Regions from separate parts of the Homo sapiens genome. Here region 1 is linked to region 2. Evidence: fine-mapped expression QTL. Tissue or cell type: cerebellum. Region 2 holds a variant in brackets; the other region holds the start of a gene. All regions are shown on one strand. Distances are from middle to middle.

Region 1 (8,102 bases), 190 kb before region 2:
CTTCCTAGGGGAAAGGTGAGTATTTTCAGAAGAACCACTTCCACTAGATGCCCCAATTCCAGAGGTATTGAAAGCACCCTGGCCTGGGAGTCAGGAGGTCTGGGTTCAATGCCCAGCTCTTAACCATGATGAGAATCTAGTCTATGTTTCTTCCTCAGTTTCCCTATTGGTGAAATGAAGTGGTTGGATTACAGTGAATTCTCCACAAGTTTCCTTCCCGAATCTTTTTAGAACTTTCAGGCCAGGCCACTTCCGGGTTTCTGCCAACCTAGACTCCAGTGGGTCGGCTCTGGCCTTCACTGCTCCTTCTCCCTCCTGAGGACTGCCCATCCATCCACAGCCCCACCACCTGCTCTTTCGTTCCTTCCCAGCTTCTCCCCTCTTTAGCCCCTCTCCTTGGTGGAGACTTCACCCTCTAAGTTTCCTGATAAGCCACAATCTTGGTGTCTTACTTGCTTTCATCAAACAGCCAAAGGGATTCTATGGGCCATTTGCCCAAGCCTCCATTTTACAGATGTAAGGACCGAGGCCAGAGAAGGGAGGGATTTCCTCAAGATTACCTTGTGAGAGGGAGGTGCGGTCTTCCTGTAACCCGAGTCAGCCTTATCTTGTCCAGGACTAAATTTTTCGGGCGCCTAACTTTAAAAAAATAAAGTACTTTTTTGGCCTAATATAAGGTTGGTACAAAAGTAATTGTGGTTCTCGCCATTACATTCAATGATGAGATCCACAATTACTTTTTTCTTTTTTTTTTTTTGAGACAGAGTCTAGCTCTGTCGCCAGGCTGGAGTTCAGTGGCGCAATGTCGGCTCACTGCAACCTCTGCCTCTCGGGTTCAAGCAATTCTCCTGCCTCAGCCTCCCGAATAGCTAGGATTACAGGCACGTGCTGCCATGCCCAGCTAATTTTTGTATTTTTAGTAGAGACGGGGTTTCACCATGTTGGCCAGGAGGGTTTCAATCTCCTGACCTCGTGATCCACCCACCTAGGCCTCCCAAAGTGTTGGGATTACAGGTGTGAGCCACTGCACCCAGCCCACAATTACTTTTGCACCAATACATAGAATTATGTTTCCCAATTGAGAGGACATTCGAGATGTTCAAGGAAATTAAGGTCATTGGAGGTAATCCAAGGGCCTCCAATACCCTAATTGACCTGGTGAGGAGTGGGAGTGGAGGGGGTCCCTTCCCAATTCTCTTTTCATCAATGCTCTTGATGAAGAGTTTGTTGCTAATGTGTCTTTAACACCTTTCTAGCCTTTGGTAACCTTCCTTTCAAAGAGAAAGTGGGACCTCAGCTTCAACACCTCCTCAGGCAGCAGTATCTTGTTAGACTGTATTATTATTATTGTGGTTAAAGATACATTGTTAGAATTTAATAACACTTATTTTCATTGTATTTATTTTGATGGTTACCTTCTATTTATAGTAATGTGATGCTGGCTTTCCATTTATGGTAATAATTTAACATATCTTTTTAAAAACAAGCTCACTTAAGTAAATTAAAAAAGAATGAAAAAATAAGAGTTGATTTAGAGAAGCCTATTCAGCAGATGTCCTTAGCTAATGCACAGATAGGGCCAGGTCCTCCATGGAGGCTGGAGAGAGGCTGAGGTCCAGGAAACTGACTTGGAACTGGAGTCAGGGACCGAGCTGGTTGTCTAAGTTGTGCAGCGGGTCTGCACTCTCTTCCCCTGCGCCTGCCCCGTTCTGCCAAGCCCCAGACCCTTAGAGACTCTATCCCTCTCTCTGCCTGTCTCTGGTCTCCACTTCCCCAGCTCCAGCACCCTTGCTGTGGGCTTCCCGTTTTTCCTCTTTAAATGTATGTGGCGCCTGGTGTCCAAGGAGGCTCACACGGGGCCTCTCCCAGCAGCATTCCACAAGTGCAGGGCCTGTGGGGTGTTCAGCCTCCACCCTCCATTCTGTTTTGGCAGCTGAAGGGTGAATGTGGAGCCCTTCTCCTTGTCCTCCTCTTATAGAAATTCCACCATTAGGGACTTCCTCCCCTTGGGTGAAGCTTTGCTCACTCTGGGTCCCTTTGAAACCGCGGATCCAGGGATTTTTCTTCCAGCCACGTGCCTACTCTAAGAGTCCCGGTGACGCGGTGAAGTTCTTTAAAGGACCAGACATCCCTGAAGTCCTTACAGGGACATCCCCTTACAGGGACGAATCCATTTCCTGGAATGTGGGCAAGGAAAGGCAGCCACTTCCTGCCTCTCAAAACTCTGGCTGGTGGCTGGGTGCAGTGGCTACGTCTGTCATCTCAGCACTTTGGGAGACTGAGGTGGGAGGATCACTTGAGGCCAGGAATTGGAGACCAGCCTGGGCAACATGGTAAGAGTCCAGCTCTACAAAACACACACGCACACACACACACACACACACACACACACACACACACACACCAAAAACAACAGAAAACATTAGCCAGGCATGATGGCACATGCCTCTGGTCCCAGCTACTCGAGGGGGCTGAGTTGGAAGGATTGGATTGCTTGAGCCCAGGAGGTCGAGCCTACAGTAAGCCGTGCAGGAGGTCGGGCTACAGTGAGCTGTGCTTGTTGACCAGGCTTGTCCAGCCTGGTCAGCAGAGCGAGACCTTGTCTCAAAAACAAAACAAAAACAAAACAAGAAGATCCCCCTCCCCCCAAACTCTGCCCAGTGGCCTGACTACCAACATCCATATACAAGACAGGAGTAGGGTCAACTCCTTCCTATCAGTCACCCCTTAGTGAGAATCAGCTGGCCAAGGGGCCTCCTGCAGAGCTGATGTGTGCTTGAATGCCTAGGGCCCACGGGGATGGGGTGTGGAAGCTTCAAGCTGGGACTCAAAACAGAGTTGCCAAGGGAAGAGGAGTGGGCGACCCGAGCCCCTGTCATCAGTACTTTCACTTGGGCTGTCAGTTTTGATCTGCTTGCTTGTCCGTTTTGTCTGGGGCAGGGTCGGGTAGTTGTTTAGAGGAGGCTCAGAGGTTAAAAGTCTCAGGCAAGTCATGTCAGGGGTTGGGAGCCAGTGCTGCTGTGGCAGCAGTACAGAGAAGAAAAGATAAGCTCCCCAGCCCCGCAAGAACCTCAGCCCTGAGGCCGGAGACACAGATCTGGCCCCTTGCAATCAAGTCATTTGCATCTGACCTGGGGTCAGGCCCCTCCATGCAGGAAGTCCCCTTTCTTATCTGCAAGTCAGAGGAGGGTGAGTTCCCCAGGCTTTCAACAGGTACTTCCCCCGGCAGCGGGAAGCCCAGGAGCCCGATCAGGACCGAGGATCTCACCCCAACCCCTGCGTTTGGGCCCCGGGGTCAGCTGAAAGTTCCCCTGGAATAAACACTTCGGGTCCAGCATGCCCCTCTCCCCACTCCCGCAACGATCTTCCGAATTCAGACGCAGAGAGGGCCCGCGAGCAGAGCGGGAGGTGGTCGGAGGCGGAGGAAGGGGAGATGGGCAGAGGGTGGGCCCAGGGACCCCCAGACAAGGCCTGGACGCGGGGTTGGAGGAGGAGGCGGAGGCTGGCGGGAGGCGAGGGGCAGCCCGCAGAGGAGACGCGCTTCTCGGCAGCAACGGCGTCTGGAGCCGGGAGGGGCGGAGGTTTGGGGAGGGGGAGGGAGGGCGGGGGAGGGGAGGGACGGACGGCGGCGGAGGTGGGGCCGGCGGGCTGGCGGGCGTGCAGCTGCCGCCGGCGTCGCGGGGCTCCAGGCTGCGGGGCGGACGTAGCGCCGAGCGATCCACCGCGGAGCCGCGCGAGGCCGCCCGAGCCCCAGCCCCGGCCCCGGCCCCAGCCCCGGCCCCGGCCCCGGCCCCGGCCCCGGCCCCGGTCCCGGCCCCGAGCCCCGAGCGAGCGCCGCCGCCTCGCGCTGCGGGTCCCCGGACGCGCCGCCACCGCCGGGAAGGCAGCCGGCGCCGGGCAAGTTGCGAGCGCGCCCCTCCGACCAGGAAAGTTTCCCCCCGGCCGCCGGCGGGATTTGGCGCGGGGTCCGGCAGCCGCCGCTGGAAGGTATGGGGCTCCGCACCTCCGTGCCCTCCGCACGCCGCCGCCGCGCCCCCGGGGACCTGGGGACCCCCCCGCGCGCCGCCCCGGGGGTGCTGCTGGACGCGGCGGGGAATTGGGGTGGAGTAGGGATCCCAGGACGGAAGCCCGGCAACCAAGTTCCACTCAAACTAGCACGCGGGGGCTGGGGGGCCGGGGACGGTCTCCACCCCGTGCCTGCCCGGAGTCCGCTGAGGGCCGGGGGCTGCGCCCAGGACAGGTGCAGAGCCGGTGGGCTCCCAGTGCTCCGGGTGGAGGAGTGGGGGCTTCTGGAGAACGGCGCGGGGTGGCAGGTGTGGTTACAAGGTTCGGGGTTTCGGCCAGGGCTGCGCCCGGAAAGGGGCTGCTCGCCACGCCACCCGGTAAGACAGTGAGGGACCAGGGACTGGGAGCGGCGATCGGGGCCGGGAGGGCTGTGGGGCCCGGCAGCTGCATGGAGGGCGGGCTGCCTTTGGGGTCCCTGGCAGCGGGGCGGGGCGGGGCGGAGGCGCCACTCGTTCCTCCAGGACCCCCCTTATTCCTTAGGTGTGTGCGGTTTGGGGAAGTGGAGACTCCATGGAGTGCTGGGTGGGTGGGAGGCTCGGGCACGTCCAGATTTAGGGGGCAGTGGGAGCCAGTTGGGACGGTGCTCGGCTCGGGTGGGATCGCGCCGGCTCCGGGTCCTGCTGGAGTGAGGTGACTGGGCTCCCGCCAGGGGGCGCACTGCCCCGGCCCTCGCCAGCAGGAAGCGCGTTCTGGCTCCTGCGAGGCAACCGCGCCGACATCCAGGACGCAGGGACCACAGACACCCAACTTACGCGGGGTCCCGCCCCGAGGAGCCCGCCCTACACTAGCCAGACGGGGGAGCGGGACCAAGAGTGAGGCGAAAGGTTCACAGTTATAACTGCGCCGTGGGCTGGAAAGGCTAGGAGTCAGGATGTGATTTTTCTCGGGAAGGCTGCCAGGGCAAATGGATGAGTAAGAAATTTACCCCCAGAAAAAGATGTAAGAAACTACAACTGCGAATTGGTGCAGAGAGAGTGGGTTGGGGAATTAACTTTTTGACGGTTTTTGGAGTTGCAGAAACCCAAACCCCAAAATGCATGCACCCTTTTTGTAAAAGTTGCACCTTTGTTTCCTGGATCTGGTCGAATCCCTGTCTGGTGAAGGCAGGATGGGGGTCTTGGGGTATCCTCTCTCTGGGCACAAGTAAACTGGGAGGCACAGGGCGGGCGGTGGGGGATGGGGCCTTAAAGACTTCAGCAGTCCAGGCAGAAGTGTTAAATTTCTCAGCAGTCAACGAGCCCTGGCCCCCACCCTCATCCCCTGGGTCTGTGGTCTCTAGGCCACATTCTTCTGGTCATTTCACAATTATTGGTGGAAATCTGCCCTGGGTCCCAGTTGTCTGGCCTCAGGGTCCCTGTATGTTGAGTCTGTGTGTCTGTGCCTTGGGAAGTCGACGGCTGCTGGCATCTGTGAGGACTGTCATCTTTGTCATGTGCGGGGCTAACATTGAAGGGACATTGGAGGGACTATTGCCTCATCTTTCTCTCCAGTTCCCTCCCTCCTCCCATCACCCCAAGTGAGTGCAAAGGAGCAAATCATAGATTGTGCCGTGGCCTCATTGTGGTTGGTAGAAGTTTTCATCTTTCTCTTAGCTGGTAACCTGTGCTCCTTGGGCAGCCCCCCTCCTGCTCCCATGTCCTTAATGTCCCTTACAAAGGTGGGGGAAATGGGGGTCCCTGAAAGAGATGAGGTTCCTCTGTTCAATGTAGTCTGCCACATGTTTTTGTTGGATGCTACTGAAATGCTCCAGGACAAAGTTGCCATAAAGACAGATCAGCATGATTTTTATTTTGAATAGAAGAGGAGGAGGAGAGAGGAGAGAAAGGAAAGGGTGGAGAAGCCTGCTGTGTCTGGATAGGTCTTTAAGACATTCCAGGGGGCTGGAAAACAAAAGAAGTTTTTTTTTGTTGTGTTTTGCTTTTAGTGACTCTTGTTTTTCTGTGGAGGGAAGCCTGCATGGACCAGCCCTGCCTTGGAACCTGCCTGGGAGCATGGGGCCCCTAGAAGGCCAGCGTTTCCCGTGTTCTGTCCCTCCCCTCTTCTCCCTACCCCCACCCCACTTTTCCTGAATTGGAGAGGGAGTTGAAGGTCCCCAAGGGCTACTAAAGTCTGTGTTTGGGCTTAAAGTATCTTGTGTGGGCTCAGTCTTCTCCCAGGCAAACTCCAAGATCTCTGATTTAGCAACATTTCAAGTCTTGGGCACTCTGTTTCCTTGTCTCCCTTGTCCCCAAACCCATTCAAACAGCCAGTATATGTGGTGCTTTTACCCAACCCCAGTCTGAAATGGTAGCACATCATTGAAAGCTCCAGGACACTTTCTAGAAGCCGAAGTTAGTTGGGTTTAGGATACCTTGGGGTTGGGTTTAGGACACCTTGGGCTGAGTCCAGGAAGGAACCCTCTGCCCTTTAAAAAATGAGATTTTAATGGTCTGAGGGGTGTGTTGGAGGGCAGGGTGCTGGGTAGGGACACAGGATTAATTCAAGGATGTGTGGGAGGGGGTGCCAGGAAGAGGGAAAATAGCAGATTTGAAATCTAGCTCTTCTGAGTCATCCGTGTGGCCTTGGGCAGGTTATTTCCCCTCTTGAGCCTGCTTCCTCCGTCTGTAAAATGAATATGTTGGCTGAGGAGATTCTGAGCTATCTTGCAACTTAGAGCAGGAGAGTCTAACCTTTTAGGGGGCTGGGCAGCCCTGCTCCATTCCTTCTGCCTTCCATTCAGTGGAAGGTGCCTCTCCGGGCTGGCTTGCCTCTCTCTGCCCGCCTGTACACAGCAAAATCCTGCGTTGAGTGAATGCAGCAGCTTCAGAAACCAGCTCCTGCCATCAGAGCTGAAGGACAAAGTGCCCAGCAGTTTTGGGTAGAGAGGGGAATGTCTGTAACCAGTCCCTGCTGGGAGCCCCATGTTAGTCTGCAGGCTCGCTCCCCACTCTTCTTGGGAAGAGCCCTTTCAGTTCCTGGGGTGCAGGTTTTAGGGACCTCTCCCTTTCCAGAGGGCTGCTTTTCTGGTCTATTTCATCAGCCATTGAGAGGGAAAATCAGGAACATTTGTTCATGCTCAGCTGGGGTGCAGCACAGGGAGGGGGCCTTGGAAACCAGCACTCTGGTCCCACTGAGCAGATGACGCCCATTGATCAGGCGTTTCTACCACCTGATGCCATTGAGCAAATGTACCAGCTTGGGCTCCTCCTGCCACCCGGGCTGGCACCTTGGACCTGCATTAGTGCTCCATCTGAGGGAGTGGGGGTGGATCATGAAACACTTTTTTTTTTTTTTTTTGAGAGACAGTCTTGCTCTGTCGCCCAGGCTGGAGTGCAGTGGTGCGATCTTGGCTCACTGCAACCTCTGCCTCCCGAGTTCAAGCGATTCTCCTGCCTCAGCCTCCCAAGTAGCTGGGATTACAGGTGTGTGCCACCACACCTGGCTAATTTTTTTTGAATTTTTAGTAGAGACGGGTTTCACCATGTTGGTCAGGCTGGTCGCAAACTCCTGACCTCGTGATTCACCTGCCTCGGCCTCCCAAAGTGCTGAGATTACAGGCGTGAGCCACTGCACTTGGCTTTTGAAACACTTTTTATAAAGAATGGGAGAGTAAGATGGTGAGCCTGTGTTTGCAGCTGGCAGGGCTGGTCTTTCATCTGGGTACTTGTTGTCTTAAGATTCAGCTCTTGCCCCTGGTCTGCACCCAAGACTGCTGGCTTAATTAGTGAATTCAACAACTTGGAGATGAGCAAAAACATGTTCACTGGTGGTGGGCAAGTGTGTACAAAAGGCAACAGGATGGAGCAGAAAGGTAGCTGAACTAGGCATTAGGAGACTGGTGTTCCAGCCCTGATACTGTTACAGATGGAGCGATGTGGCCTTGTGTGAGTCACAGCCTCTCTCTGAGCCTCGGTTTCTCTATTTCTTTAGAGGCAGCAGTGCGTGGTGGTTAAACTGCCTGGATTTGCCTGTTAGCTTTATCATAACTTCATATCAATTGTGTGACCTTAGACCATTCAACCCCTGGTGCCTCCATTTCCTGATTTGTAAAATGGAAC
Region 2 (8,102 bases):
GCACTCCAGCCTGGGTAGCAGAGCAAGACTGTCTCAAAAAAGAAAGAAAGAGAGAGAGAGAGAGAGAGAAAGGAGAAAGAAAGAAAGAAAGAAAGAAAGAAAGAAAGAAAGAAAGAAAGAAAGAAAGAAAGAAAAAGAAAAATGGAGCAGATATTTATTGAAATCTGCTAAACGCCTTCTATCCTTTCTTCCTTAGGGCTGCCTTAGGATGAAGGTGTTTGAGTCTTCTTTTGACCACAAGGAAGCTAAAAGGCTCAGACAGATTTTGACACTTGCCTAGGGTCACACAACTAATAAGTGGCACAGCTCTCTCTCTAGACTACGCTGCCTCTTTCCAAAGATAAATAAGGCATAGAGAGCCCATGTTGATGGAGACATAAATAAGAAATCTTTTGAGCTATGGATTTGAGAGTGGGGAGCCCACTCTCAAGTTGGAACCTCACTGAGAGTCCCATGGGGGACAATGACGATGACTTGGTCTGTGTCTTCCCAGCCCCTAGCATGGGTGGTGCAAACACAGCATAGGGCTGACTCAGAGCATGTTCATGGACCTTTGTTTAGGGTGTTGAGGCTGGAGTCAGGGGGCCTGCGACCAAACTCTGACTCTGCCATGAACTTGCTGTGTGACCTTCAGCAAGTTGTTGGTTCCCTCTGTATGGAATCAGAGGGTTGGACTAGATGACCTCCTAATCCTACAGGTCTGACATTTCAAGAGAAGATAAAATTGGCAAATAGCCTTTATGTGATACAGCCCGAGGTGGGGCTTGGGTCGGAAATTGGATTTAGAGGATGCGTGTTGCACTTAAGGTCACGGCAGCTAGAAAAATTAAAAGCAATTCAAGGTGCGGCTGGGACTCACTGGCTCTCGCCGCAGGTGAATTCCTGCCTGGCTCACCTAGTGCTTGATGCCTCTGACCCTGGGGCTGGCTCAGGGGAGTGGTGGGTCAGAAGTGCCTAACCTCCCTTTCTGCCTGTTTCTCCTCCCAACTCCTCCACTGGCCCGAGCAGCTGGGCGGGGCCTGCCTGCTGGCCATCGGCATCTGGGTCATGGTGGACCCCACCGGCTTCCGGGAGATCGTGGCTGCCAATCCTCTGCTCCTCACGGGCGCCTACATCCTCCTGGCCATGGGGGGCCTGCTCTTTCTGCTCGGCTTCCTGGGCTGCTGCGGGGCCGTCCGTGAGAACAAGTGTCTGCTGCTATTTGTGAGTACCCCAGCCCCCACCCCATCCATGGGTGCTCTGAGGGGTGTCAGGGATTGGCTGCAGACTCCCAGGCCCTGCCTGGCTTCCATTCAGACCAGTGCTTCCCAAACTGGGGCGGGCTGTCAAAGCAGAAGGGATCATGGAGATGAGCACGTCTGACCCCACTCATTTGGTAGTCAATGGTCCTGAAACCCTGAGACATTCAGCAACTTGCCCAGAGTCCCATGGAGTTGGCAGCAGAGGGGATGATACAGACGCTAGGTCAGGGCCCCTGCAGTGCCTCAGGCTGCCTCTTCCCATGCCTTTGGGACCTGTTTTCTCCCTGGGGTAGCCCTTCCTCTCTCCCACTTCATTTTGCTGCTTTCCTGCAGTCAATCCAGGACCCTTGGCTTAACACACACCTAGTCTGTGTCCGCATGCCAGGAAACTCAGAATAAGGTTTGTGCCACATAGGTCCACCTCCAGGGGTGGGGCGGTCCCCAGCCTTTTCCATCTGCCTTGGTGGCCCCAGCTTCCAGAGCCTGCTTTTGCAGTGGGCCCGTGCCTGCAGTGGGTGAGCTGGCCCAGATGGCGGGGGCCTTGGCATCCAGGTCTGAACAACCAGGTTTCTCCAAGGCATGGTCAGCTGAGAGCACTGACATTGACCTTGATGTTTTTCCACTTGCTTGCTATTAAAAACTCTAATATATAACTCCTTAGTAACATCGCTAAGATGCCTAGTGGATGAGGCCTTCCCCTTGTAGATATGCAATTCTGAAACGGTATGATATGGCCTCTGAAGGTTTCTTATTCATCAAGTAAGTAGCCCTTGAACTCCTATCATGCGCATGTAGTTCACTGGGTGCTGAAGATATGTCGGGGACCAGGAGTGATGGTCCCTTCCCTCACAGACAGGCACAGGGGAGGCAGCCGAGCCGTGCGGATGAGCTGGGCAGTGGGCAGGCCTGGTTTGAGGGTACTCCCTGCTCCATCCCCTAAGGGTGTGCCTCCCATCTAGTTCCCCAACCTCCCAGAGCAGCCATGTCTTCTTGTTAAACGAGGGGGCCGACCAGCTCAGCTATAGATCACAGCCAAACCAGACAAGCAGTGGGTCTTCTCGTTCTCGAGTCTCCTGGATTCCCATGGGTGGTGGCGCTTGGGGCCTCCGCCTGCTTTCCTGTGCTGGGTGGATGGGTCTTCTCTAAGAGGTCCTGGACTTGGAGAACTTCTGGGCTGAGCCCAGTCCCGCTACAGGGTAAGTTAAAAACAGCCCTGTTTAGAGAAGCGTGGGTGTGTCTGGGTAAGCTTGCGGATGCTCCTCATGGGCGAATTCGTGGGCGGAGTTAAATGACAGGGAGAACTGGGCTGGTTGGCTGGGGGGCTCCCTTGCAAGGTTCTGTAGATAAGCCAGCACCAGCAGTGCTGGGAGGAGAGACCTGGCACCATACCTCCTCCCCAGACGAGAGCACACTGCACGGCCCCATTTGTGTCCCGGTGAGATGCTCCCCATCCAAAGGAAGTGAAGTCAGCTGCGAAATGAGTGACAAGGAGCCTTGGGCCTATTTGTCCTTCAACAGCGCAAACACTGCAGACTTCATTTGAAGAGAAACAAAGAAAAACTTTGAGCGCCCCCTGGTGGACAATTCTCTACAGCTTGTCACGGTGCTCGCAGAAGTCTTGGCTGGGGAGCCCGAGGGGACTTTAAAAGGAGCTTGGATATGGGTCCCAGAACAGACCCAGCCTCCCTTTCCCCCTCCTCACCTCGGCCCCCAGGGACTCATTCATTGTTAATGGGCTCGGCTCTGAAGCCAAGACAGGAAGCCAGGCTGGTGTTCTTGGCTGGGAGCAGGCTGGAGCGGCTCTAGTCTCCTCCAGTAAGTGGCTGCCTGCAAACCTGCCAGCCGCCCCAGGACGTCCTCCCTCCCGTGCTATGCGAGGCAGGACTGAGGCCCAGGGGTAGGAGATGTGTCCACGATCCTCCCGAGAGAGGTGATCCTGGCTGCCAGGCTGGGGGCCCTTCGACAAGGCCTGATGGCAGATCCTTCCCCTTCCCCTCCCCACCCCCGCCTCTCTCCCTTTGTCCCCCTTCTTTCTGCCTATCTCTGTGTAGCTCCCTTTCCTCTCTGCCTCTGTCCTCCCCATCTCTGTCCTTTTTTTTTTCGAGACAGGGTCTCAGTCTGTGGCCCAAGCTGGTGTGCAGCAGTGTGATCTCAGCTCACTGCAGCCTCAACCTCCTAGCCTCAAGTGATCCTCCCACCTCAGCCCCCCGAGTAGCTGGGAACACAGGCACGTACTGTCACGCCCAGCTAATTTTTGTATTTTTTGTAGAAACAGGGTTTTACCATGTTGCTCAGGCTGGTCTTGAACTCCTGGGCTCAAATGATCCACCGCCTCGGCCTCTCAGAGTGTTGGGATTCCAGGCGGGCACCACACACTTGGCCTTGTCTTTCTCTTGATCTCTGTTTTTATTCCTACGCCCTTTCCTTGTCCCTGTCCTGATCTCTCCCTCCCCGTTTCCCTGTCTCTCTCTCCACTTCCCCTGCTTGCCCTCCCCTCTCTA[G/A]GGCCCCGCCCACACAAGCCTGAGGTCACAGTGTGGGTCAGAGGCAAAGGACGCTTGGATCAAGGTCTTCTGGCTCCCAGACCAGGGCTATCCACAGGCTCTGGATAGCCTGGAATGGACTCCAAAATTTACCTAAAATTATATGCAAAATGTTATGTTATGTCAGGTCCTGTGTATGTGTATTGTGTATACATGGATTGTGTGCATACTCATGTGTATGGGTACAGTGTGTATGTGCACGTGTGTTGTATGTGCATGTATGTTGTGTTCTATCGTGTGTGTTTGTGTGTACATGTGTGCATTGCTTTGTGCATATGTACACGTGCATGGGTGTTGTATGTGCATGGGTGTTATGCATGCATGGGTGTTATACGTGCATGGGCGTTACATGTGCATGGGTGTCATGTGTGCGTGGGTGCACATATATATGCATGTGCACATGTGCCTGTGTGTGCACATGTGTGTTGTGTGTGCATGTGTGTTGTGTGCATGGGGGTTGGGGGGGTTCTGTGAGTGTTTCCAGAGAAAGGCACCAAAGTTTCTGGAAGGTTTTCAAAAAGGTTTATGCCCTAAAAAATAAGAAAAACCACTTCTCCCTTCCCGGCTGAACCTGGACCTAACTGTGTGGTGGTTCCAACCGAAGAGGGCATGGAGCCTCACCCCTGGCAGCTTCTGGGATCCTTCTAGAAGCCTTTCACTGCTTTCTCAGCCTGTCAGAAAGGAGAGAAGGCTTGTCTTGAGAGGGGCCAAAAGAGTGACTTTAGTCAGCCCAGGAAACCTGGCTCAAAGGTTCACAAAGCAAGGAGGCCTTGAGATGGGGCTGACTGTCCCCTTCCCTCTGCTCTGAGACTGAAGTCCTACAGGACCTGGGGACAATCAGTCTAATGACCAGACCACCTAATGATCAATTTATCTATCTAAAGGTCCATTTCCCAAATACTCGTGTTGATCAGTATTACAGCACTCACATGCAATAGGACAATTTCAGCCTCCTATTGAAAATTTGTGGCATCCCTTTTTCTCATTTGCTTACCTTTGAGTATTTCAAGGATTTTTTTAAGCCAACTTATTTAAAAATTCTAATTTTAAAAATATTTTATAATGAAGGCAAGCTCAACTGGAAAAAAGAACAGCAAAAAGAGATGAGTATATTCAAAAAAGATAAATGAGCTGAATTGTACATGCAGTATGTAAATTTGGTAAATATTTATTAGAAATGGGAACTGTGAGCAGACATTGCCTATAAGCAGATGGGTTAGAAAAGCCTGGAAATGTTCCCAACTAGACAACATAGCAGTTTCCTCCCCTTTGCTAATTTTTCCATCCTAAGGAAAGTGATGCAAATTAGAGGATCAGGAATGGCTGACAAAGGTGTCCTTAGGCAAATGGGATGCAAACCCTGGGAAAGGCCTTGATGAGGGGAAGCCCCAGGAATGGCTGGGTCCAGGGGAATTCCCCAAAGGACTTTAACACTGGTAAACTGTCTTAAGCAGGAGGACATTTTCATGCTGGAGAAGGGCGAGTTGGCAGAGGTGGCATTGTGACTGCCATGGGCACCTCAGCCTTGCACTTTGGTTCACAGGATTCACACTCCCACATACTCAAGTCATGCCCAGGCCTTGGGCTTGGGGAGGCCCACTTCCTCCAGTCCACGGCTTCCCAGGTTTATTCTTATATCTCATCTCCTGATGCTTCAGCTCAATGGAAACTCCATGAAGATGGGGACTGAGTCTGCCTTGTATGCATTTATTTGCCAATACCTAGCACAGTGCCTGGCACAGAGCAGGTGCTCAGTAAACAGCCCCGGAGCCAAGGAACAGAGAGGAGGTGGTAGCAGAGGTTTGGCTAAGAGCATGGACTTTGGAGTCAGAAAAGCCCGGGCTCTAACTCCTGCTCTGTCATTTCCTGGCTGTATGACCTGGGGCTGGTCACTTAACCACTCTAAACCTTAGATTCCTCATATACAAAATGAGGATAATCATACTTCCTTCCCAGCCATAGTGTTGCATTCATGATCCAGTGGGAAATGCATGTTTTGCTTGGCTGTGTTTGTGGGATGCCTAAGCACTCTATAAATGGGAAACTAGAAGAATTGGTGCTGAGCCTCAGGAGGCTTTGCAGGCCATGTAGAAACCATAAGACCTCGGGGCTCCTGTGGCTTCCAGGGTAACATGGTGATGAGAGGCTGTGTTCTGCAATCAGAGTTCTTGGGGTGAAGTCCCAGAGGTACTGCCCACCAGCTATGCCAGCTTGGGCCGAGTACTGTTCCTCTCAGCCACAATCCGCTCTCAGTAAAATGGGGGTGTTGCTGATAATAGCATCTGTCTCACTAGATGAGAGGGCTTGATGAGATGATCCATGTAAGATCCGCAGTGTCTGGGTAGCAAGGACTCAGCAGGTAGCTATTGCTATTTTTCCAGAGCCGCCCACACCAGCACTTGTCTTCGGGAAGGATGTGCTTCCTCTGGGCTCTAAGTAACCATCTGAGCAGCTCTCATGTCATGCCGGTCTTGCGAGAAGCACCGCACCTGCATTACCTCGTGGAAGCCATGCGCAGTCATCCTGGATGGCACACACACATCCCAGAGTGACGGGCACACAGAGTACACGAGGCCTGTGATCTGCTTCGTCCATTATTTATCACTGTCCAGGCCGAGGCTGGTGGGCACGCCAGCTCCAGCTCATTGCCGTGGATGGAAACCATTTCTGAGGCTGCTCCTTGCCAGCCTGGGGACCTGCCAGTGGCTCCAGTGAGAGGGCAGAGGGTGGGGAGGGGCTCCTCATAGAGGACCCATGTAATGGAAGCGGATGGCCATCCATCACCAGCCAAATGGAAATGCCAGGACCCCTGCCAGCGGCCTCCGTCACTGTCACAGGGGAGGCGAGGCTGCAGAGGCAGAAAACACATCACTCAGCAGCCACTGAGCCCAGAGCCCCCCACCCTCCTGGAAATGAGAATTGTAGGAGTGGCAGAATGGACCATGGGCATTGTGACCTGGGGCACAGGAGGCTTCCCCCACCCCACCCTCATCATACTCTGCACTGGTTGGGGAACTCTGCTCCCTGACCTCAGCTGGAGGTCAGTCCCTTCTTCAGGAAGCACAGGAGCATCTGGCCTGGTGTCCCTCATCCAGATGTGCCAGCAGGCCACCCAGCAAACCTCAGCCAGGCAACCTGCTGACCTGTGGAGACAGACTCATGGGCTCAGAAGAGAGTGACAGAGCAATCCCTGAGCCTCGCCCTGCATCAGGGAGCAGACACAGCCTGGCGCTCTGAAAAGGCAGCTGGGCCAGGAGGGGAGTGTTCTTTCTGCAAAGCTCCAAAGAGCTCTGCACCTGTGGAGTAGTCACTTCCCTTCTCCAGCTTCAGCTTCCTCAACTTCGAAAAGGGGAAACTACACAAAAAAGAGACCGTGAGAACAGCGTCCGGTGCCCGGCGGTCCCCTGTGAGAGCAGAAGCCTGTGTCGGAGCAGCTGGAGCCCAGTGAGACCTCAGGGGCTCAGGAGCCCATGGTGCATCTGAGGGCTGAAGCAGACTTGATGTGGTGGCTGGGGACAGAAACCAGCCAGCAAAACGCAGGATTGAGGAGTGACACATCCCCGCCACGGGCTGGGCTGCTTTGCTGAAGCAAGGGGCTCTCTTTAGGTTTGGACACTTAAAAAACTAAAACCCACTTGCCAGGCCTCGGAGATGTTTTATGTCCGTGTGCTGAATGGACAGATTCTATACTCCTCCCGAGGCGCTCACTAAGGTGGACCCTGGCCCACACAGTTTGGAGAGGCCTCGGGACCTCTAGAAGGCAGCCGCTGTGGATGCTGAAGAATCAGGGAGGGAATTGGACTGGGGTCTCCCTGGGGTGGGGATAAAGTGACAGAAATCTTCCTCTGATCACAAGAGGCACATTCCAGGAGAGAGACGCCTGAAGGTATTGTCAGCAGCCCACAGAGCATCTGTGAGGAGGCCAGTGCATCACCAGGAGCCGGGCCTCGGAGGCCACAGAGGATCCTGCTCGTGGCCCACATTCACTCCCCTTCTGCACATGAGAGCCCAATGCCAAGCTCTGCTTGGCTCATTTCCAACAGGGGAAATGCTTTCACATGCCTCGTGATTCCCCACGGGGAATCCCCAGAAGTGGGTCTCCACATCCCCATTTTTCTGGCAAGAAAACTGAGGCTGGAAGGGGTTTGTATGAGTGGTTGTCCCATGACACACGAGGACAGACAAGGTGGGCCCTGAGGTGTCCTGACTTGAAGCCCAACACCCTTTGCCTCCTTCCAGCCTGGCACATCGGGGGCAGGCAGGCAGGCAGGCGGTCCTAACGACTGGGACCCCAGAGAGCAGGTCTGGCTGCTGCCTGGGT

Alleles and levels. Alleles are on the strand shown, and positions count from the first base shown. SD is a standard deviation of normalised expression in the study named.
For the expression in cerebellum of the gene that starts at base 3,662 in region 1, A is the low allele of the variant in region 2 and G is the other (moderate effect, 0.74 SD a copy in GTEx).

The links. PIP is the estimated chance that this variant, and not a neighbour inherited with it, causes the effect.
Region 1: TSPAN18 starts here. The variant in region 2 is fine-mapped to the expression of TSPAN18 in cerebellum (GTEx, PIP above 0.99). The same link has a PIP of 0.9 or more in cerebellar hemisphere.

What each region holds. Positions count from the first base shown.
Region 1 is chr11:44,723,301-44,731,402 of GRCh38, forward strand. TSPAN18 (tetraspanin 18) reads left to right here and starts at 3,662. Exons shown (of 10, transcript NM_130783.5): 1 at 3,662-3,987. All of the region lies in intron 2 of TSPAN18-AS1 (TSPAN18 antisense RNA 1), which reads right to left. RefSeq lists enhancers at 2,190-3,050, 3,051-3,912, 3,279-3,448, 5,164-5,666, 5,667-6,167 and silencers at 3,639-3,788, 4,625-4,794.
Region 2 is chr11:44,908,697-44,916,798 of GRCh38, forward strand. It overlaps TSPAN18 (tetraspanin 18), which reads left to right. Exons shown (of 10, transcript NM_130783.5): 5 at 1,009-1,203. Among named protein-coding and RNA genes, the nearest start is that of TP53I11, 38 kb to the right of the region's middle. RefSeq lists enhancers at 2,311-3,167, 6,880-6,979. The variant G/A (reference allele first, on the strand shown) is at 3,743.